7 linked regions of the Homo sapiens genome follow. The protein of the gene in region 2 purifies or fractionates together with the protein of the main gene of each other region. This does not show direct contact. Each region holds a gene or a part of one and is shown on either strand. Other genes may lie near its edges.

Region 1 (2,177 bases), on a different chromosome or scaffold from region 2:
CTGGTACTTAGAGTCAGGTCAGAGGCAGTTCAGTCTCAAGTGAGCCCTGACCCCTAGACACCAGTGAGAGCACAACAGGTCTAACATTAATACTAGTGCCCTCACCACCAGCATCCTTGGACTGGTGGGCTCGTTTCTGCCTTTGAAACCCTCTATCGCACACAGAAATGCTCCAGGCAGTCAGGTGAAGTGGCTCACGCCTGTAATCCTAACACTTCCTGAGGCCAAAGTGGGCAGATCACTTTAGGTCAGGAGTTCGAGACCAGCCTGGCCAACATGGTGAAACCTCGTCTCCACCAAAAATACAAAAATTAGCCTGTAGTGCTGGCTACTTGGGAGCCTCCTGAGGCAGGATAATCTCTTGAACCCAGGAGACAGAGGTTGCAGTGAGCCGAGATCACGCCACTGCACTCCAGCCTGGGCGACAAGAGCAAGATCCCATCTCAAAAAAGCAGCCTAAGACCCCACTTAAGATCTTTAAACATAATTCCAGACAAGGAGATTTTTAGCATCTTTATTTGAGAAGTCAATTCTGCAGATGGGTAACAATTCCAAGTGTTGATATATCTCAACCTTTCTATACAGAAAATAACAAAACTCAACCAGCCAGCCTCCCCACATATGCTTCCAACCACATCTGGAGTGTCCACCATCAGTCCCCTTGGCTACTTTCAAACCAGAGCTCAAATGCAGACCGTTTTCCTTAGGAATCATTCCCCTGACCCAGGTTTTCAGAGTTCTTTTTCCAGGACAGAATTATAGCCCCAGGTGAAGACTAGGTGGATATAGGACAAGAACCATCCTAGGCCTGGCTCACAGCCAAAGTCCATCATCCATTTTCAGCACTGAAGAGCAAGATCTTCACCAATTCTTGTTTTTGTAGCCCCCATCCAGGGACAGCACCACTGAAAGTTTGCAAGACAGCTGGGTTCAGTGAAGTGTTTGAAAACAGAATATAGCACCATTGGAAAACAAAGGCCTACAGCCACACTTGATCACCTCCACGTTAGACAGATAGGAATTAGGATCAGGAACACAGATCAGTACAGAAGGCCAGAACAAAACCTTTGGCTAATATATAAAACCAGCAGTGCTCCAAGGCAGATTCAGCCAATAATTAAGAAAAAAACCATCAAAGCCTCAACCTTTGCTTACAATCTTTATTGAAGTTATACAAAAAGAATCCTCCAAAAGTGAAAAAATACATTATATACAAAAACACTTTCCCTTGGGAGGAGGGCTGTGCCCCCTCTTAACATGCAGTGCTTTCAACTGTAGCTCCAGCCTCCACTGTCCCCTCCACTGCTGCCCGGCTTTCAGCCTGATTCTCAGCCTGGAAGACAAACAGAACCTGGGCATGAGTGAGCCTAGTTTAAGCCATTCTGTCTTATATAACTGAGGCCTCAGTCATAGGAAGCATATACAAGTCACCCAAACTCTGCTTTGCTCCCTATATTAAGAGGGCAGTGACCACAAAGTATTTCTTGAATACTCTGTGATAATGGGGCTGACAGAGCCAATAATCATCACGTGGAAGGAAGTGACCTAATGGTTTTGCCCATCAAGTGCCTTCTCATATATTCATCGAGGGACCTATAATATACAGGTTCCATTTGTCAGTGAGTCATCCTATACTCCCATAACCAAACTGTTTTCCTGCACAAGTACCGTTTTCTGTGAGGACTGCACTCAACAATCGTTAGCAGGCTCAAGGTGGGGAGCATGCACTTGAGAGGACTGATTTCCCCAGGTCCTGAGAACAAGGAATGAGGCAAGAGGCTAAGCCCTGCTTAACTGCCCACCTCCTCCTCCATGTTTTCCGAAACTTCATTTCCACTGGGGACAGCATCCCCACTGCCTCCGTTCACCTCCGGCTCTTGTTTGGCTTTCTTTGCATCATCTTTCCGGGGACTCTCTTCCTCTGGTTTCCTCTAAAGATATAATTGTGAAGGCTTCACAAATGTGCTTAATGTTTTTAAAAAGACAACTGCAAAACATTTCCTTAACCCTTGTGGTGCAAAGATCCTGAACATCAGGATTCACAGCTCTAAGGGTCTCTCTCCCTAGCCACAGGCAGATGCCAACCTGTACTCTCAGAATGTATTAATCTGTCCCACCATATCACTTCAGGCCCCTCTACCGGAAGCACAGGGAGATAGGGTTGGGGTGAGGAGATG
Region 2 (3,500 bases):
GGCAGCACTGTGACCCTGTCCAGAAATTCAGGCAGTTAAATGTTCTTCCCACATCTATGACAAAGAAAAAAACGACCTAACCTTTTGCGGGTGGTGGCGAGCGCGGAGAGGACGCCATGAAGGCCTCGGGCACACTATGAGAGTACAAGGTGGTGGGTCACTGCCTGCCCACCCCCAAATGCCACACACCGCCCCTCTACCACATGCGAATCTTTGCGCCTAATCACGTTGTCGCCAAGTCCCGGGACTTCTGGTACTTCGTATCTCAGTTAAAAAAGATGAAGAAGTCTTCAGGGGAGATTGTCTACTGTGGGCAGGTGTTTGAGAAGTCCCCACCGCGGGTCAAGAACTTCGGCATCTGGCTGAGCTATGACTCCCGGAGCGGCGCCCCCAACATGTACCGGGAATACCGGGACCTGACCACCGCGGGCGCTGTTACCCAGTGCTACCGAGAGGTCTATGGGCGCCTGGCACCGCACCTGGGCCCATTCCATCGAGATCCTGAAGGTGAAGGAGATCGCAGCCAGCAAGTGCCGCCAGCCGGCCGGCCATCAAGCAGTTCCACGACTCCAAGATCAAGTTTCCCGCTGCCCCACCGGGTCCTGCCCGTCAGCCCAAGCCACGCTTCACCACCAAGAGGCCCAACACGTTCTTCTAGGGGCAGGGCCCTCGCCCGGGTGTGCCCCAAATAAACTCAGGAACGCCCCCCACCCCAAAAAAGAAAAAAAAGGAAAAAATGACCTAAAGTAGGTAGACAGAGATGACATCTTCTAAGAAAGCAGGGCTCAAGCCAGCCTCCCAAGTAGCTGAAACTACAGGTACAAGCCGCCATGCCCAGTTCTTTTTTTTTTTTTTTTTTTTGAGATGGAGTCTTGCTCTGTCACCCAGGCTGGAGTGCAATAGCACAATCTTGGCTCACTGCAACCTCCACCTGTGGGGTTCAAGCGTTTCTCCTGCCTCAGCCTCGGAGTAGCTGGGATTACAGGCACCCGCCCTCATACCCAGCTAATTTGTGTATTTTTGTAGAGACAAGGTTTCACCATGTTGGCCAGGCTGGTCTTGAACTCCTGACCTCAGGTGATCCACCCACCTCAGCCTCCTAAAGTGCTGGGATTAAGGCGTGAGCCACTGCACCCGGCCACCATGCCCAGTTTCTATTCTAAACCATGGAACTTAGAATTCCAGAAACTGGGTCTGGTGTTAATTTTTCCTGTCCAGTCATTTTCCCCTCCCCGTCCCAAAGATCCATGCTTCAAGGTCAGGACCAGCAGAATCAGTACTGCGGATTCCTTCCAATGACCTTCTGCTAAGCTACAAGTACTCTCTCAGAGGCTGTGGGACTGCGCCCTCCCATCATTCTTCCCGGCTTAGCTGGGGTTGGTAAGGACTGCCAATGTAACTCTGATGTTTCACTACCTCTTATTCATTCCCCTTAGCCTGCCAATTTGCTCAAAACAGTCCCTGAATTCAACTCTCAAGTACCCACTTAAGTCGCAGTCATTTTTTTTTTTTTGAAATAGGGTCTTGCTCTGTCGCCCAGGCTGGGGTGCAGTGGCGTGTTCTCGGCTCACTACAACCTCCGCCTCCTGGGTTCAAGTGAGTCTCCTGCCTCAGCCTCCCTAGTAGCTGGGACTACAGGCGCCCATCACCACGCCTGGCTAATTTTCGTATTTTTAGTAGAGATGGGGTTTCACCATATTGGCTAGGCTGGTCTTGAACTCCTGACCTTGTGATCCACCCACATTGGCCTCCCAAAGTACTGGGATTACAGGTGTGAGCCACCGCACCCCGCCAGTCGCAGTCATTTTTAATCGTCAAAGGAAATAAACCCTTCATTCAAAACTTACAGGGCTATGATTAGAATTCTTTAACTCAACATACCGTGCCTTCATCAGCAAATCTCTTGAGATAGTCTTTAAGTTCAGTCTTCAAATCATTGTATTCTAAATCAAAACCACAAAAGTATTTAAGTTTAGATAAACCATTTGCTTTCAAAAACAAAATATTCTTTGCCATTGACACCTGAGTCTGTTAATAATGTAGTCTAAATAAAAATTTTCTTAAGTGAAAGCTGCATAGAAACTCGTTCCCAAATTATCTGTACGTCTACCATGTTGATATGAGACCCTTTTTCATTAAAAAAAAAAAAAGCAAAATTTTTTAAAAAGCATAAAAAGCAGAGATATCCTAATCCCATAAAGATTAAGAATTTTTAAAAGGGCTTCCTATTTCTCTGGAATTCTGGTAGCTGAAATAACCTTGGACTTGTTGAATATTTAATTTAATTTAATTTATTTTATTTTTTGAGATGGAGTCTCACTCTGTCACCCAGGCTGGAATGCAGTGGCACGATCTCGGCTCACTGCAACCTCCGCCTCCCGAGTAGCTGGGACTACAGGCACGCGCCACCATGCCTGGCTACTTTTTTATATTTTTAGTAGAGACAGGGTTTCACCACGTCAGCCAGGCTGGTCTTGAACTCCTGACCTCAGGTGATCCACCTGCCTTGGCCTCCCAAAGTGCTGGGATTACAGGCGTGAGCCATGGCGCCCAGCCCAAGCAAACTGACTCACTTAACAGTTTATATTATGTACAAGGTACCTTGAGGGCTACAAGTATCTTTTAGGTGCATCCTCTATCCTTGAAAAGTTTTTACTCTAATAAAGGCAAAAAGAAATTAATAATTATAAATAAAAGACACGGCCAGGTGCAGTGGCTTGCACCTGTAATCCCAGCACTTTGGGAGGCTGAGGCAGGTGGATCACCTCAGCTCGGGAGTTCGAGACCAGCCTGGGTGACATGGTGAAACCCTGACTCTACTAAAAATACAAAAATTAGTGGGGACTGGGCATGGTGGCTCATGCCTGTAATCCCAGTACTTTGGGAGGCCAAGGCAGGTAGATCACCTGAGGTCAGAAGTTCGAAACCAGCTTGGCCAACATGGTAAAACCTTGTCTCTACTAAAAATACAAAGTAAATTAGCCAAGCATGGTGGCAGGTGCCTGTAATCCCAGCTACTTGGGAGGCTGAGGCAGGAGAATCACTTGAACCTGGGAGGCAGAGGTTGCAGTGAGCCGAGATCGCGCCACTGCACTCCAGCCTGGGTGACAGAGTGAGACTCCATCTCAAAAAAAAAAAAAAAATTGGGGGGGCGCAGTGGCATGCGTCTGTGGTCACAGCTACTTGAGAGACTGAGGCAGGAGAATCACTTGAGCCTGGGCAGCAGAGGTTGCAGTGAGCTGAGAATGCACCATTGCACTCCAGCCTGGGCAACAGAGCAAGACCCTGTCTCAAAATAAATAAATAAATAATAAAAGACAGAAATGACTGATGCTATAAAAGTCACATAAAAGTGGTGGCATCCAAGTGGAAATGGCTGGGATAGAAACCACTGAAATAAGTTTGGCCTGCTGCAGCTGGGTGGTGGTGGGGGGATGTAAAAGCCTTCAATCAAGGGTTTGGGGGTATTTTCTCCTCTAGTGGTTTCCTGTGAACCACTG
Region 3 (3,500 bases), on a different chromosome or scaffold from region 2:
CTACAATTGCAGGCCATGGCTGATAAACAAAACAAAACTTTGAACAACAAAAGAGGCCAGTAATTAGCCTCTATGGCACCCAGCATCCAGAAGGGAGCTGAATGCATCCAACCAGTGCCGTCCAGCTGATCAGCCTCTGAAATTTGTAAAGCACTGTGACACATACCTTATCTCTTTAATCTAACCACCTACTTGACAAAGTTGCTGGAATAGGGAAAAATGAAGTCCAAGGCAGTCAAACACTATCCAAAGTCATACAGCTAGTGCACCACAGACAGGGGCTAGAGCCCAGCTCTCTTGGCATTAAGCCCATTCTCTGCCCACTGTACCTCCTTGACATCACTTCTGGCCACTCCTCATCTTGGGCCCCATAATGAGGTTTATAACTGGATAACTAAGCACAGTATAGGGGGATGGTGGGAGTCGAGGGTGAGTCTCTCCTGTCTTCCTGCAGAACCATCTAAAACAGCCCCCAAGAAAGAAATGGTTACAAGAGCCTATGAAGAAACTTAAGCCCATCTCTACAAAAAATAAAACATTAGCCAAGCATGGTGGCACACGCCTATCGTCCTAGCTACTAAGGAGGCTGAGATGAGAGAATTGCTTGAGCCCAGGAGTTCAAGGCTGCAGAAAGCCACGATCATGCAGCTGCACTGCACTCCACACTGGATGACAGAACGAGACCCCGTCTCAAAAAAAAAGAAAGAAAGAAAGGAAGGAAGGAAGGGAGGAAAGAACTAAGTATCAGAAAACAGAAACTTGTATTAGAGATGAAAATGCCAACTACAAATCAGCATGGACAGAGTATTTAAATCATGGTCCAGCCAATGGCAGACTTTATTTAATACAATGTTCTGGCAATTGAAGACTTTAATCATTTCCTTACCTGGAATCAAAGAGGGTGCCATCCAGAAGCGTGCCATTGTAATGATACCTGAGAAAGTCCCCACTTTGACTTATCCGCTCACAGTTTTCAGGTACTACCTTGTTCTCAATGGAAATGCTGTCCTTGGGGTTATGGAGGTCCAATAATGCAACATCAAACACCAGAGATGCCTGACCGGGAATGTCTTTCCCTAGAATGGAATGGGAGAAGATGATTAAACGGGACACAGGATTTAGGAAGTACTTTACAACTCAACAGGCTTGGGGTTGGTGTTATTCATTTCTTGAGGTTTTGAAGCCAAGGAAACAAATGTTCTTCCAGGTCTTGAATGGGCCCCCATGGTGTCCAACCATGGGCTGATGGTATAATCTAAAACCTGACTCAGCAAAAGGAGAAAATTGGTATTAATGACATAAGAGACTACCATGACCATATTTTCTGGACTCATGCTGGAAAATCAAGGCTTTATGTAGGTGGGCAGGCACCCACAGGCAAACCCAAATACATACCTCTGTGGGTTTCTGTTTGTGAATAAATGCAAACCACAGACATTTAAAGGAGAAAATTCCAAATCTCTGGTCTGGTTCTGGAGAACTGTACACAGACTTGTTCTTTGAAACGAACGGCCAATTTTTTAGAGGCAAAAAGTAAAACTCAATGCTTTAAGTATATCCAAAGCAAGATATAAATAAGATGAAAGCAGAATAACAGAGAAAAAAATGGCACCCACAATCCAAAATATAAATAAATAGTCCTCAAATCACTTCTATCTCACTTCTGGGTAGTACTGCTTCTCTTGGATGTTCCTGCCAGTGGGAATATTTTGAATATCTGCAAAATGAAATCCACATGAAGAGATTACAGGACACTAGTTCTTCCTGCAAAGATCAACATCAACCAATAAATAACTCAAAATCCAGTAATTTGGGATAGTAGAAAGTTAACCAACAAACCAATCCCTCAGTTTTACCTGCCATTTGTTATATCATGCAAAGGAGTAGGCCCAGACAAGCAAACCAGATGCCGCCAAGCCTGAGCTCCTTCCACTGGCCTTTGGCAAAGCCCACCCTGCATCTCCTTCCCATCCAAGGAATGATGAAATCTGCTGAAAGCCGGCTGCTGAGTCAGCCCCTGGAATGCAAGGTGTGGTCAATCCCTAAATCGCATGCGTGGGAGATAGAATATTAATCTTTTGTGCCTTACTGTATCTTTTCATTTAAGAGAAAAATGAAAGCCTTAAAAGTAACCATGGGGTTTAAATTTTTCTTTTCTTTTTTTTTTTCTTGAGACGGAGTCTCGCTCTGTTGCCCAGGCTGGAGTGTAATAGCTCAATCTTGGCTCACTGCAACCTTCGCCTCCTGGGTTCAAGCGATTCTCCTGCCTCAGCTTCCCGAGTAGCTGGGATTACAGGCACCTGCCACCACGCCTGGCTAAATTTTGTATTTTTAGTAGAGACGGGGTTTCCCCATGCTGGCCAGGCTGGTCTTGAACTCCCGACCTCAGGCGATCCACCCAAATCAGCCTCCCAAAGTGCTGGGATTACAGGCGGCAGCCACTGCGCCCGGCCTGGGGTTTCAATTTTTCTAGCATTAATGTGTACTAAATGAATAATGTTTTCTATAGCAACTTTGCAGAGATATAATTCACATACCATACAGTTCACCCATTTAAAGTTATACTTGGATAGCCGAGCACAGTATTCAAGTATAAAGTATTCAAAAATAACTACTCTAAATAAGCTATTATTTATTTAAAGTAAAGAAATAATATTTCTCATATTAGGCTCACATCTGGTTTTGTTATGTGGCTGATGACAAAAGGATCTGGGAGCCAACGTGAATGAACTTCTTGGGGCCAAGGACAAGACCATTTGAACATCAATAAGAAAACAGTAACTGCCAGGCACAGTGGCTCCCACCCGTAATCCCAGCGCTTTGGGAGGCTGAGGTGGGAGGATCGCTTGAGTCCAGGATTTCCAGGTAAGCCTGGGTAACGTAGCGAGACACTGTCTCTAAAAAAACTTTTTTAACTAGCCAAGCATGGTGGCACACGTCTGTACTCCTAACTATTCGGAAGGCTGAGGCAGGAGGATCACCCAGGAGTTTGAGGTTACAGTGAGCTATGATGGTGTCACTCCAGTCTGGGTGACAGAGTGAGACCCTGTCTCTAAAAATAATAATAACAGTATCTTATATCTCAGTGGGGGGGAGAATTAAGACATATTTATGGCACTGCTTTAAACTTTATTTTTCTTTTAGTAGGGAATTCCACCCCTAATGCTCTGTTTAAGAAACCATCTGCAGATCCCCAGCATGTAAAATATATAAAAGTGGGCCAGGCACAGTGGTTCACACCTGTAATCCCAGCACTTTGGGAGGCCGAGGTGGATGGATGGCTTGACCTCAGCAGTTTGAGACAAGTCTGGCCAACATGGCGAAATGCTGTCTCTACTAAAAATACAAAAATCTGCCAGGCATGGTTGCATACGCCTGTAGTCCAAGCTACCCAGGAGGCTGAGGCAGGAGAATCTCTTGAATCCAGGAGATAGAGGTTGCAGTGAGCCGAGATCGCACCACTGCACTCCAGCCTGGGCAACAGAGTGAGACTCTGTCTC
Region 4 (3,500 bases), on a different chromosome or scaffold from region 2:
CTTCCGCCTCCCATATTCAAGTGATCCTCCCGCCTCAGCCTCCCCAGTAGCACCACCACGTCCGGCTAATTTTTGTATTTTTAGTAGAGATGGGGTTTCACCATGTTGGCCAGGCTGGTCTCAAACTCCTGACCTCAAATGATCCACCCGCCTTAGCCTGCCAAATTGTTGGGATTACAGGCATAAGCCACTCTGCCTGACCAACCAATAGATCTTAAAGAGCTAGGGAATGAAGCTAACCAGCAAAGCCAGGGCTGGAGAGAAACGGGGTCCTGGAGACATTATCTGAACACCTAGATACAGCTGCACCTGAAGTCAGCCCTGCGCTGCATTGTTTGGGTTCTGTGAATCTTCAGTGTGTTCTGAACTGGCTTAGTGCAAAACCCAAAGAACCAGGCAGATGCCCCTGCGATGGCAGACCCCTCATGTACGTACCTGCCTGCTTGCAGGAGAAGGCAAAGACGATGATGTCGTCAAAGGACCAGGTGTAGTCAGGGTGAGGTGGGTAGAAGGCCAGGTTCCTGGACGCCGCCTTCCGCAGGTCGATCAGGAAGGTCGAGTGCACCATGGGAACTGCAAAGCAGCCCCGGCGGTCTCGCTTGCGGATAGGGATGTAGGCAGGTGTGCGCTTGTAGTAGCCCTGTGGGGAGAGAGCGAGAGTTCCGCGTAGGGGTCTTGAAAGGTGAGGATGGAGACCCGTGATAGTGGGCGGCATGAAACAGGACCAGACAGACAGCCAGGCACAGCAGTGTGCGCCTGTGGTCCCAGGACCCCAGACTCAAGCCCAGTGTGGGACCTGTGGCCAGGCATGGCCAATAAGAAAGAGCCTTGTATTTTCCCAGCTTCAGTAATGAGTTCAGAGGTAGTGTGGAGAGGAGACTAGCAATGGCCCAATCAGAATGGATGATGGCTAGACGCTGCTGGGATCACTCTCAAGCTGTCTGAGAATGAACCCACCCAAAGGATGGAGAAAGACAGTTATCCAAACACCTGGATCAAGCCATGCCTGAAGTCCCATCCTGACACCACCACTTGCTAGCTGTGTGACTTTAGGCAAGTCACTTCCTCTCTGTGTTTCTGTTTCCACCTCTGGAATAGCATGGTGGGGGACAATCAAGGACCCTCTATTCTTCCCTCCTGTCTGGCCTCAGAGGGCTGTTTAAAGATTACCATAATGAGTTTTTGTTTTGTTTTGTTTTTGAGACCAAGTCTCACTCCGTCACCCAGGCTGGAGTGCAGTGGCGTGATCTCGGCTCACTGCAACTTCCGCCTCCTGGGTTCAAGTGATTCTCATGCTTCAGCCTCCCGAGCAGCTGGGAGGACAGGCATGTGCCACCATACCCGGCTAATTTCTGTAATTTTTTTTTTTTTTAGTAGAGATGGGGTTTCACCATGTTGCCCAGGATGGTCTCAAACTCCTGAGCTCAGGCAACCCGCCTGCCGCAGTCTCCCAAAGTGCTGGGGTTACAGGTGTGAGCCACCGTGCCCAGCTTCCATGATGATTTTTGTAAAACACACACCACGAGGTTGTGTGACAGTAAGTTACACTCTAGCCACGGCACCCCCCTGCTCAGCCCAGTCCCCACAGTCCCCAGGCCCTCACTCTACCTGGGAAGTCATTCCACACCAGAAGTTGGAGTACGCAGCCCGGGAATCCAGCATGGGGGCGACCACCGTCTTGTTCTCAGCGATGAGCAGGCTCAGTGTGTCAGGGTTGAGGATCAGGTTGTCCGCATCTACAAACTGCAGAACACCCCACAAAGCATCAGCATGGGCTGCCAGGTCAGGCTACCATTCAGAACAGCTGGGGCAAAGGCCAGTGCCCTGGGGGTCTGGCAAAGACCTCTGGAAGCACCCCCTACACCGGATGAAATGAAGCAGGGACCCCGTTTTGGGGGCCTGCAGGATCCCCTGGATCATGGAAATAAAGCAAAGGTCTTCAGTTCCTTCAAAGAAAATTCTAGGCACTGAGATAGCCCTGAGAAATAAATGAACAACCAATGAGCAAGAAGGTAGCAAAACCTTTTTTTTTTTGAGACGGAGTCTCGCTCTGTCACCCAGGCTGGAGTGCAGTGGTATGGTCTCAGCTCGCTGCAACCTCCGCCTCCTGGGTTCAAGCGATTCTCCTGTCTCAGCCTCCCGAGTAGCTGCGACTACAGCCGTGCACCATCACACCCGGGTAACTTTTTGTATTTTTAATAGAGACAGGGTACCATCATGTTGGCCAGGCTGGTTTTAAACTCCTGACCTCATGTGATTCGTCCACCTCGGCCTCTCAAAGTGCTGGGATTACAGGCATGAGCCACCATGCCTGGCCTACTATTTTACTTTTTCTTCATTTTTTATTTTTTAAAGGGATAGCATCTTGCTGTGTCACTCAGGCTGAAGTGCAATGGTGTAATCGTAGCCCACTGCAGCCTGGAGTTTCTGGGCTCAAGTGATCCTCTCATCTCAGCCTCTCAAGTAGCTGAGCGTACAGGCACACGTCACCATGCCTAGATAATGTTTTCATTTTTATTTTTATGTTTGTAGAGATAGGATCCCTCTACATTGCCTAGGGTGGTTTTGAACTCCTGGGCTCAAAGCGATCCTCCCCATGGCCTACAATAGTTCTGAGATTACAGGTCTGAGCCACTGCACCTAGACTAAAATTAAATATATATATATAAAATCACACATAGAAAATGATTAGGTCCGGACGTTCCCCCTCTACCAGGATGTAAAGACACAGAAGTCATGATATATCACAGAACTACCAGAAGGTTTTTTGTTTTTGTTTTTGTTTTTTTGAGATGGCGTCTCCTGTTGCATAGGCTGGAGTGCAGCGGCGTGATCTCGGCTCACTGCAACCTCCACCTCCCATGTTCAAGCAATTCTCCCTGAGTCTCCCAAGTAGCTGGGATTACAGACACATGCCACCACGTCAGGCTAATTTTTGTATTTTTTGGTAGAGATGGGGTTTCACCAGGTTGGCCAGGCTGGTCTCGAACTCTTGATTTCAAGTGATACGCCTGCCTCGGCCTCCCAAAGTGCTGGGATTACAGGTGTGAGCCATTGTGCCCGGTCTGGATTTTTTTTCTTTTACTGCTGGTCCACAGAGATGCTTTCTGTTACCCAGGCAGTATCGTTTAGAATATTTGGATTAACTGCCATGAACAACAACAAAAACTAGAATTCCAGTATCCCCTGGCAACGTGAGAATACCATTTCCACATGGCAACCTTCAGTTGCAGAGGGGAGGTGGCTGGGTCTTAGGACAAGCCCTGTGGTCATGTTACACACCCCATCCGGTCCCTCTGGATGTTTGAATCTGTGACCTTTGAATATTAATGCAGAACAAACAGCCAGATCACTGTGGCAGTTCCTCAAAAAGCTAAACATAGAATTACTACATGATCCAGGAATTCCATTCCTAGGTATGAACCAAGAGAATTGAAAGAAAGGACTCAAACAGCTTCTTTGTTTGTTTGTTTGTTTTTGAGACAGAGTCTTGCTCAGTC
Region 5 (2,714 bases), on a different chromosome or scaffold from region 2:
GAGGCTGAGGCGGGCGGATCACCTGAGGTCAGGAGTTTGAGACCAGCCTGGCCAACATGGCAAAACTAAAAATACACAAATTAGCCGGGTGTGGTGGTGGGCGCCTGTAATGCCAGCTACTCGGGAGGCTGAGGCAGGAGAATTGCTTGAACCCAGGAGGCGGAGGTTGCAGCGAGCCAAGACCGTGCCACTGCACTCCAGCCTGGGCAACAAAAGCAAAACTCCATCTCAAAAACAAAAAAACAAAACTAGCCGTTCAGGCACACATGACCCCGGGTTCCACACCTAGTGGAGATGCAAACTTTTCTGCCCTCAATCCCAGAATGATGGGGTGTAATTCAGCCCCGGCTCTAGTTTCAGACGGGGGACCTGTGGCCCACTTGCAGGTCTCATCCCTGCACTGGCACCACCCTGGGCCTCAGGCCTGTGTTCTCTGCTTCCCACAGTCTCATACCACCACCTGCAGTTAGTTAGTTAGTTAGTGAAACACAGACCCCATGTCAGCCAACCACAGCCACAAAGGTTTAATCAGTTTTTATCTCACAAGGCAGTAACAATGAGGGGCACAGTGGTGGTCAGGGTGGTGGCCCCAGTGGCCAACTAGGGGAGTATGGCCTCCTCCACAGAGCCGCTGCCTGGGGAAGATGCTGTCAGGGCACGACCACAGCCCAGCACTTGCCCCACTCAATAAAAGGCTGTAGTGCTCTGGTGGGCTGTGCACCGTGCGCAGATCCTCCTGGTGGGCACTGGAGGCCAGGGAGAAAAAGAGCCTCCCCGCAGCCCAGATCCAGCATGCAAGGTGCTAGATTTCTCGGCAATTCCACAGGGAAGGACAGTAGCCTGTTCCCTGCCCTCTCTCTTGGGCAATGGGAGGCAGGTTGCCAGCCTTGGGGAGGGGCAAGGCTGTGAGGGGCTCACCCCCACCTCCCAGTGCCAGGCCTGCTGTCCAAGCAGAGCACAAATGGGTTCCTCCGGGACCCCTGGTCCTTTTTCCAGACGAGGCTGTGGCACTGGTGGAAAGGGAGGGAGAATGGAGCCTGGCCCTTGTGTGTACAACAGGAAATGCACCTCAGGACACAGCAGGAGTCAGCGGGAGGGCACAGACCTGCCCCCTGCCAGGCAGAAAATGGGCCTCCTCAAGCACAAAAGTGACCAAGTACAATTTTCAGTTGCTAAAACAAGAAAAGGCTTCAGCTAGTTTCATTTCCATGTGTAGTTATTTTCTCTTTTGAATAAGCAAAACCAAGCTAAGCTGTGTCAGCCAACTTCATCCTGACCAAGGCCTCTGAGACAGCAGACACAAGCACCCACTCCAGTGTCCCCCTCAGTCATCCCGGGTTCCAAGCACCCACACAATGCCCATTGGATGGCTACAAAGGGAAAGCCCCATCTGGGTCCATGACCCATATACCAGGTGCAGAGCCAGGACAGAGGGCAGGGGGCAGGGGGCTGTGAAGGCGATGCCTAGAGGATCCGACCCCTCCCGGCATGGCCAGGAGGCAGGGCTGGGCAGGATGACTGGGGCTACATGGGGCTTGGCCCTTCCCTGTGGCTGGCAGCCCAGATGCTGCAGTAACACTCATTCCCAGGCTTCACTATGGCCACTGGCCCAGACCCCAGAATCCAGAGGCTCAACACTAAAGACATCGGCTAATACATAGCAAGATGTGTGCAAAGTTCTGGGGGAGCCCAGCAGGTGGCTCCACCTGACTCCCACTCTGGGTGGGGCAGGTGCTGAAGCTGCAGGGCTGGCCACGACCCTTTGTACTGTCAACTCTGGCTTCCTTTACAAGAAACTAGGAGCACTTCTAGCACATTCCTTCCTTACCCTGCTCTCTCAAAACCACCCTGACCCCCATGGCCCCTCCTGGAAACATGGTACTCAGAAAAGCAGGGACCACCAGTGGCTGGCAAAGTGTTTGGGGAAAAAAGGAGGTGCAAAGTCAGCAAGAAAACAAATGCCCGCTGGTCCCGCCAAGGCAGGGTGTGCCTAGTCCCGGGGGATGTTGGGGGGCGGGATCTGCAGGTCGGAGGGCTCCACACCCCAGATCTCCCGTGCATACTCCGTGATGGTCCGGTCACTGGAGAACTTGCCCGAGCAGGCGATGTTCCTGATGACCTTCTTGGTCCACTCCTTGGGGTTCTGCAGGGAAGGAGATGAAATTAGTCTCTGGCGTCACAGGGCTTGGGGCTGCTAAAAACATGGGATTCCAGAACTTTAGGACTGTTTCCAAATGAGCTCCGAGCCTTGGGGCCATCCGCTGGAAGAGGAGGACATTACAATCACTTGTTCGTTGAAAAGGGGACCCCACGGACCAGGAAAGCTACCGCATTCTAGATCTAGGGAGCAAGGAGCTGGAGAGAAGGTCCCAGCCTCGAAAATTCCTGCTAGGGCATGGCCCCCAGGACGACGATAGGGATAGCACCAGGTAAGAACTGCCCAGGCAGATCCAGTGCCAGGGGACATGCCCAGGCAGTCTCCTTCCACCAGGGAGCCTCACAGCTGCCACAAGCTGCAGGTCACACCAGGCCAGCCTTTCCTCGAGGCCAGCCCTGACTGAGGGAAGAGAAGGTCCCTCCCAGGGCCCTGCCCGTCACTCAGTTTCCAGGCCGCACATTCCTTTCTTGGCCATTAGGAGCTGTTTTTTTCAACGGAGGGAGTGACATTGACAGTGACAGCTTCCCTAAAGGCAGGCACAGCCGACTGATGACAG
Region 6 (3,500 bases), on a different chromosome or scaffold from region 2:
AATTACAAGTGTGAGCCACCACACCCAGGTGGTTCCATAATATTTCATAATGTACTCAACCACTGAGATTGTTTGGAAAATTCTGGTAAGAAAATGGAAATCGAAATTCTTATGCAAACCTCACTGATCCTCTTTTTTGGAATGATTCCTCAAGGCACATTCTTAGGCTTTGGGTTTTCTTTGGCCAAGGGTTAGAAAAGTTTTATGTGTTGCTAAATTGCTTACAAAAAGGTCTGTATTAATCTACACTCTGAATCATTAAAATCGGATCTCTGACTTTAAATTATGCTTAAGTGTGCAATATACAAACAGTAGCCTCCACAAAGGATATTCTTCTCATATTACCTATTAGTGAAAACAGATGTCATGTACTTACTGTTCTGAATGCCATAAATTTCATCAATGAGTCCTTCATATGTCAGCTGAGTGGCAAGAGGTGTTAATAAATCCACATTCCGATCAAGCAACAAGAGATTATCAAAAACAGGAAATATTGAATTCTGGCTTCCTGTAAACTCTCTCTTCATCCTGATCATCATATTGGCCACTTGCTGGAAACAAAACATTGGATGAGGTGGGGCCCCCCTGGGAACAAGCAGATTTTAAAATTTGTCTAAAACCAGAAAGACAATCAAAAAAGTAAAAAAGGAGAAAAACTGGAAGAGTGCATTGCTTAGAAATAAGCAGCTCTAGAAAAGCACCTTGCTGTTGGCACCCATCCCGACACTTGCACCAAGGCAGCTGCCATTTGCCAATGAGGCATAAAATCAGGTCAGTCTATTCTTGTGATTCGCAGTAGTTATGTTCTATGAAGTCACTGCAAACACTAAATTAGCGAAGATGGAACCACTGTTCCTAGGAGAAACGCAGACTTAGGTTCCTGGGAGCCTCTGGTCTCAACGTTTCTGTCAATTGATCAATACGTAACCCAGTTTTATATGTGTTTCTGCTTAAAGATGCCTGACTTAACATAATTGTTGATCACTCACACTGAACTGACAGCCAGCAGCTCTGTGACTCGTGCCTGAACGAAGCGTCTCTGACACACGTAATGTCTCCGCCAGGCACACCACAGCCTTCTTGTGCACAAGACACCCGACTGCACCTCAGTCCTACATTTGCAGGCCATTTTAAACAGTGAAATCACCAAAAAAAGTACACACGTGTGGAAAATATGACAGTGAGACTGTGAAAAGTACACTTGTTTGCAGTCTGAGAGCTGAAATGGGAAGGTGGAGTGTCAGCTGCCTCAGTTGGGAACATGCGCAGTGGTTACTCAAACTGTCACCACTGTGCACGCCGACAAAAGCACCATGAGTACTGACTTGGAGGGTTATAAGTGCATTTTAATCAGTAGGCAAATTCATGAGTACAGTATTCATAAATAATTAAGATCAACTGAATTTGTTTGTAAGGAGCTTCCCGTTCCTCCTCCCTTTTGGGGTGTGAAGGGCCCTCCTTTACCACCACAAAGCAGCCGGTTCTCACCCGAGCGCATTCTCCTTTCCCAAAGATCTGGGGGATCGTTCCATACAGAGCTTGCAGGGTCATCAGCCCCTTGGCTGCGTGGTACAGGCTCGTCTGGTCACCCTCCAGGTAGCACTCCTGTGAGGGAAAAGGCCAATTATTGCCAGGCCATGGGGGCCTCCCAGGGGCCCATCTCTGTTCCTGGGGCTGGGGTGCAGCGACAGACAATAAAATCATTTCCAGTTATTTCACACTGTGCCAGGAAAATTGGGGACTCAAGTTCATTTTCCAAAACTGCTGCCTGTCAGACCAGGCGCTGAGGCTGGCAGCCCCAGGGTGGGTGCAGCCGTGGAAGCACCTCTCCTGGGCAGAGCCGGGGCTTCTGGGAGAAAACTGTTCACCCAGCATGCCAGCTCTTCTGAATCAGCTCTTAAATAAAAGACGGAAGAATACAGACTTACACTGAACGATGGGTTCCCATTCACTGGTGAGAGTAAACTCTGGTAGGACATGCTGGGAGAGCGACATGCTAATACCCAGAAATGCAAAAGACCACAGGACGAATACTTTATTGTTTTCAAAAAGGATGAGGCAGATTTTCATGACAACTGACAACTGAAGGCCACAATCTGTTGAGTATGATCTCATTTTATAAAAAATATATATTTTTGCATTGAAAAAAGGACCTCCAACTCAGCAAACTATCACAAGGACAAAAAAACAAACACCGCATGTTCTCACTCATAGGTGGGAATTGAACAATGAGAACACTTGGACACAGGAAGGGGAACATCACACACCAGGGCCTGTCGTGGGGTGGGGGAAGGGGGGAGGGATAGCATTAGGAGATATACCTAATGTAAATGATGAGTTAATGGGTGCAGCACACCAACATGGCACATGTATACATATGTAACAAACCTGCATGTTGTGCACATGTACCCTAGAACTTAAAGTATAAAAAAAAAAAAAAGAAAAAAGAATCTCCAAAATACACACAAAACCACCTGGGAAGGCTAGGTGCAGTGGCTCATGGCTGTAATCACAGCACTTTGGGAGGCTGAGATAGGAGGATTGCTTGAGCTCTTGAGTTTGAGACCAGACTGGGCAACATAGTGAGACCCTGTATCTATAAAAAATTAAATAATTAGCCAGGGATAGTAGCATGCATCTGTATCTGAGCTACTCAGGAGGGTAAGGCAGGAGGATCACCGGAGCCCAGGGATTTGAGGCTGCAATGAGCTATGTTCGCACCGCCACACTCCCCTCTGGGCAACAGAGCAAGACCCCATCTCTTTTTTTATTTTTATTTTTATTTTTTTTTTGAGATGGAGTCTCGCTCTGTCGCCCTGGCTGGAGTGCAGTGGCGCGATCTCGGCTCACTGCAAGCTCCACCTACTGGGTTCACACCATTCTCCTGCCTCAGCCTCCCAAGTAGCTGGGACTACAGGCGCCCGCCACCACGCCTGGCTAATTTTTTTGTATTTCTTAGTAGAGACGGGGTTTCACCATGTTAGCCCTGATGGTCTCGATCTCCTGACCTCGTGATCCGCCCACCTCGGCCTCCCAAAGTGCTGGGATTACAGGCGTGAGCCACCGCGCCCAGCCGACCCCATCTCTTTAAAAAAAAAAGAGAGAGAGAAAAAAACCACCTGTGAGGTGAGAGGAGGGAAGCAGTCACTTTTGATACAGGTGGATCAAAACACAGGTTCTAGACTCAGATTGCCTTGTTCTGAATCCAACTGTGTCACTTACTAGCTGTGCCCTGGGCCAGTTAGAGAATCTCTTTGTGCCTCAATTTATTCATATGTAGAAGGGAGTATAGTCCACATAGGGCAAGTATTAAATGAGAAAAATACATGTAAAGCATTTAATCCCAGTACCTGAAACATACAGCAAATGCTCAGTAACAGTTAGCTTTTATTTGGAATTATTTAGGTTTTTTTACAACCATTATCCACTCATAAGTCAATATGGTACATTTTATCAATTCCCTCCACCCCTACCAACCCAACATGTCCCTGCTGTCCACA
Region 7 (3,500 bases), on a different chromosome or scaffold from region 2:
CGCATGGGTAGCCAGGTGCCGCCGCAGATGCGCGTTGCGCCGGAAGCTGCGACCGCACGTCTGACAGCTGTAGGGCCGCTCGCCCGTGTGGCTGCGGCGATGGCGGGCCAGGTTGGAGCTATTGCGGAAACGGTGGCCGCAGGTGTCGCAGGCGTGGGGCTTCTCCCCTGTGTGGATGCGCTGGTGGCGCGCCAGGTGGGCGCTCTGGCTGAAGCCCTCACCGCACTCGCTGCAGCGGCAGGGCTTCTCGCCCGTGTGGCTGCGCTGGTGGCGGGCCAGATCCTGGGTCTGGCCGAAACTCTTCCCGCACTGGGTGCAGTGGTGGGGCCGAGGGCCACCGTGGGTCAGCAGGTGGCGGGCAAGGCTGGCCCGGCGCACAAAGCGCTTCCCGCACTGCGGACAGGCGTAGGGCTTCTCGCCCGTGTGCACCCGTTGGTGGCTGACCAGCTGCGAGCTCTGCGTGAAGCTGCGGCCGCAAGCCTGGCAGGAGAAGGGCCGCTCGCCCGTGTGCACCCTCCGGTGGGCCACCAGGTGCTCGCTGCGCCGGAAGGCCTTGCCGCAGTCGCTGCACACGAAGGGCCTCCGGTCGGAGTCCCGGCGGCGGCTGCCGGAGCCTTCGGAGGACCGGCGGTCCTTGTCCCTGGCGTGGATCCGCAGGTGGCGCTTGAGGCTGGAGCGGCGCTGGAAGCTCTGGCCGCAGTGGGAGCACAGGACATCGGTCAGTGGCGGCGCTTCGGCCTTACTCTCAGGAGCGCAGGGCGGCTTCTGGTCCTGGGCGTGCGCCAGCAGGTGCTGCACAAGGCTGGCGCGGCGCTGGAAGCCGCGGCCGCACTCTGCGCACAGGAAGGCGGGTTCGGAGGAGTGGGTCAGCAGGTGCTTGCTCAGGTGCGAGCTCTGGCGGAAGCGGTGGCCGCACAGGTGGCAGGCGTGCGGCCGCTCGTCCGTGTGAGTGCGCATGTGCAGCTTGAGAATGGAGCTGCGGCCGAAGCTCTTCCCGCAGCAAAGGCACAGGAAGGAGCGCCCAGCCGGGTGCGAGCGCAGCTGGTGCGCCTTCAGGCGAGACAGCTGCGGGAAGCTCACCCCGCAGTCCGCGCAGATGAACTGCAACTCCGGATTGGGCTCGGGGACGCCCTCAGCCACTTTGACCTCCAAAATTTCACTGCTGCCAAGAAGGGACCCATCTTCACCAGGGCCGCTAGCCGCAGCGCCCCGTCCGAGCGACTGGGCGCAAGGCTCTCCCGGCACCCCAGGACTATCTGCCTGGGACTCTGCTAAGATGGGAGTGGGCCAGGCAGCCCCTTTGGGCTCTTCTTGTTTAAATTCCTCCTTGTCTGGGGTTCTGCTTCCGAATCCTGGGAAACAAGACAAAACAGGGACGGTCAGGCCTATTCCCAGGGCCACTATCAATCACCAGAACCTGATTGGCCTGGAAGTGGAAAGAAACCCAGGATCCTGCAAAGCTGGTAGGTAAAAGGCCGGGCACAGTGGTTCACGCCTGTAATTTCAGCACTTTGGGAGCCCGAGGCGGGCGGATCACTTGAAGTCAGGAGTGAGTTCAAGACCACCCTGGCCAACATGGTGAAGCCCCGTCTCTACAAAAAAAAAAAAAAAAAACCAAAACAAAAATTAGCTGGGTGTAGTGGCGCATGCCTGTGGTCCCAGCTACTCGGGAGGCTGAGGCAGGAGAATCGATTGAACCCGGGAGGCGGAGGTTGCAGTGAGCGGAGATGGTTCCACTGCACTCCAGCCTAGGCAACACAGTGAGACTCTGTCTGAAAACAAACAAACAAACAAAAAAACCTGGTAGGTTGGTAGAGAGGGTGGAGGTCAAACAAGGGTGCCCTTTTATTTGACCTCTCTACAAAAAGTTAGCTGGGCGTGGTGGCACACACCTATAGTCCCAGCTACTCGGGAGGCTGAGGTGGGAGGATTACCTGAGCCCAGGAGGTCCCGGCTGCAGTGAGCCATGATTGTGCCACAGTCTGGGCGAGTAACATCCTGTTTCAAAAAACAAAAAGGCCAAAAAGTCAGGTAGGGTCTGGAGCTTCAGGCAAAGAAAGAGGTGTTGGCCGGTCACGGTGGCTCATGCCTGTAATCCTAGTACTTTGGGAGGCTGAGGTGGGAGGATCACTTGAGCCCAGGAGTGGAGACTAGCCTGGGCAACATAGCGAGATTCCATCTCTTTAAAAAAGACAAGAAAAGAAAGAGGCATCAGTGGTCACTTCTCCAGGGAAGGGTTGCTTACCCAGGGGGTGTGCAGGCCACGCCTTATTCTCTGGCACATCCTCAAAGGTCAGGCACTCCTGTATCAAGAGCAGAAACCCTTGGTGAGTGAGGAACATGCCTCAGGAACCTGTGGGGACTGAAATGCTTCCTAGGACTGAATCAGGGAAGGTATGGATTTGCTAAAACTACAGGGTAGAGAAGTTCCTGGGGCTTGAGGACACCCTGGGGTGCGGCCCAGCTCACCAGCACAGCCGCCAGCTCCTGATCTCGGGAACTCTCCTCTGGCCATGGTGAGGGGCCCTGGGGACCTGACGGCATTGGGGAAGAGGGGAGGAAGTGCTGTTAGAAGGCAGCCCTGCCTGCCATATGGCTGCAAGGACACACACCGCATCATCCGGGCCCTGTGAAGACACCTTGGCGCTCTCCTGTCCTGGTCACCTGGGGAGGCCCCACTTCTCACCCCACCCCAGACATCCAGGCCCCTCCGCGACACCCAGTCCTTGGCCTCCTAGGGCACAAGCTCCTCACTGCTTTCTTGCAGGGCCTGGAATGTCTTCTGGGGCCCCGGGCTCAGCGGCTGCTTTGAACTTGGGGGAAGCCTCCACTGTCCCGGCTCAGCAGGCTGGGCAGCCCTTGGCTGGGGTCGGGGAGGCTCATCCGATGGGCCCAGCACTGAAGGCTCTTCCGCAGGCAATTCCTTCTTGGGGCTGTGGCTGGGGACCTGGGAAGCACACCCCTTTTCCTCCAAGGTGACGTCTGCACGGGGACAACTCTTGCCAGCATTACAACTAAAATCCTGTTCAAAACACATTCAAGTTAAGTGACTCCCGGGGTGGCAACCTGTGTCCTGACTCCGAGGGGACATGGGACAGAAACGAGGTTAGAGTCAGCCAGGGGAGGAGTTAGGAGGTGAAGAAGGAATGGTCAGGTGGGGGAAAGTGAAGTTTCCAGAGATTCCTCACTGGGGGGATCAAGTCCCCATCATCCGCATGCTGCTCAGCCCGCTGCCCCACCCTCTCACCAGCGGCCCCGCGTGGCTGGGCTCCCGGTGGATGCCCTCGAGCAGCAGCACCACCTCCTCCCCATCCCTGAGCGGCTGCCCCTGCAGGCGGCCCAGGAGGTGCGGAGGCAGCACACTCAGGAACTGCTCCAGCACCAGCAGCTCCAGGATCTGTTTCTTGGTGTGCAGAGCCGGCCGCAGCCAGTGGCCGCAGAGCTCCCGGAGCCGGCTCAGGGACGCCCGTGGCCCCATGTCCTCCTGATACTGGAAGCAT

What was found.
Region 1: the proteins of UBR7 (region 2) and NASP purify together in Homo sapiens (affinity purification with western blotting; one study listed by BioGRID). This does not show direct contact.
Region 3: the proteins of UBR7 (region 2) and FKBP9 fractionate together in Homo sapiens (co-fractionation; one large-scale study listed by BioGRID). This does not show direct contact.
Region 4: the proteins of UBR7 (region 2) and COLGALT1 fractionate together in Homo sapiens (co-fractionation; one large-scale study listed by BioGRID). This does not show direct contact.
Region 5: the proteins of UBR7 (region 2) and PYGB fractionate together in Homo sapiens (co-fractionation; one large-scale study listed by BioGRID). This does not show direct contact.
Region 6: the proteins of UBR7 (region 2) and VPS33A fractionate together in Homo sapiens (co-fractionation; one large-scale study listed by BioGRID). This does not show direct contact.
Region 7: the proteins of UBR7 (region 2) and ZSCAN10 purify together in Homo sapiens (affinity purification with mass spectrometry, with the first as the bait; one large-scale study listed by BioGRID). This does not show direct contact.

What each region holds. Positions count from the first base shown.
Region 1 is NC_000001.11:45,617,217-45,619,393, reverse strand, and holds the end of NASP (nuclear autoantigenic sperm protein), read right to left. Parts: intron 1,932-2,177; coding exon 1,803-1,931; intron 1,334-1,802; coding exon 1,253-1,333; 3' UTR 501-1,252; downstream 1-500. UniProt on the Homo sapiens protein: Component of the histone chaperone network. Binds and stabilizes histone H3-H4 not bound to chromatin to maintain a soluble reservoir and modulate degradation by chaperone-mediated autophagy.
Region 2 is NC_000014.9:93,220,756-93,224,255, reverse strand, and holds part of UBR7 (putative E3 ubiquitin-protein ligase UBR7), read right to left. Parts: intron 1,944-3,500; coding exon 1,882-1,943; intron 708-1,881; exon of another isoform or gene 81-707; intron 1-80. UniProt on the Homo sapiens protein: E3 ubiquitin-protein ligase which is a component of the N-end rule pathway. Recognizes and binds to proteins bearing specific N-terminal residues that are destabilizing according to the N-end rule, leading to their ubiquitination and subsequent degradation.
Region 3 is NC_000007.14:32,977,940-32,981,439, reverse strand, and holds part of FKBP9 (peptidyl-prolyl cis-trans isomerase FKBP9 isoform 1 precursor), read right to left. Parts: intron 1,984-3,500; exon of another isoform or gene 1,864-1,983; coding exon of another isoform or gene 1,857-1,863; intron 1,077-1,856; coding exon 887-1,076; intron 1-886. UniProt on the Homo sapiens protein: PPIases accelerate the folding of proteins during protein synthesis.
Region 4 is NC_000019.10:17,565,649-17,569,148, reverse strand, and holds part of COLGALT1 (procollagen galactosyltransferase 1 precursor), read right to left. Parts: intron 1,744-3,500; coding exon 1,609-1,743; intron 641-1,608; coding exon 436-640; intron 1-435. UniProt on the Homo sapiens protein: Beta-galactosyltransferase that transfers beta-galactose to hydroxylysine residues of type I collagen. By acting on collagen glycosylation, facilitates the formation of collagen triple helix. Also involved in the biosynthesis of collagen type IV.
Region 5 is NC_000020.11:25,295,799-25,298,512, reverse strand, and holds the end of PYGB (glycogen phosphorylase, brain form), read right to left. Parts: intron 2,144-2,714; coding exon 1,991-2,143; 3' UTR 501-1,990; downstream 1-500. UniProt on the Homo sapiens protein: Glycogen phosphorylase that regulates glycogen mobilization. Phosphorylase is an important allosteric enzyme in carbohydrate metabolism. Enzymes from different sources differ in their regulatory mechanisms and in their natural substrates.
Region 6 is NC_000012.12:122,249,495-122,252,994, forward strand, and holds part of VPS33A (vacuolar protein sorting-associated protein 33A), read right to left. Parts: exon of another isoform or gene 3,368-3,500; intron 1,606-3,367; coding exon 1,489-1,605; intron 552-1,488; coding exon 377-551; intron 1-376.
Region 7 is NC_000016.10:3,089,295-3,092,794, forward strand, and holds part of ZSCAN10 (zinc finger and SCAN domain-containing protein 10), read right to left. Parts: coding exon 3,248-3,500; intron 3,023-3,247; coding exon 2,755-3,022; intron 2,535-2,754; coding exon 2,470-2,534; intron 2,304-2,469; coding exon 2,246-2,303; intron 1,353-2,245; coding exon 1-1,352. UniProt on the Homo sapiens protein: Embryonic stem (ES) cell-specific transcription factor required to maintain ES cell pluripotency. Can both activate and /or repress expression of target genes, depending on the context. Specifically binds the 5'-[GA]CGCNNGCG[CT]-3' DNA consensus sequence.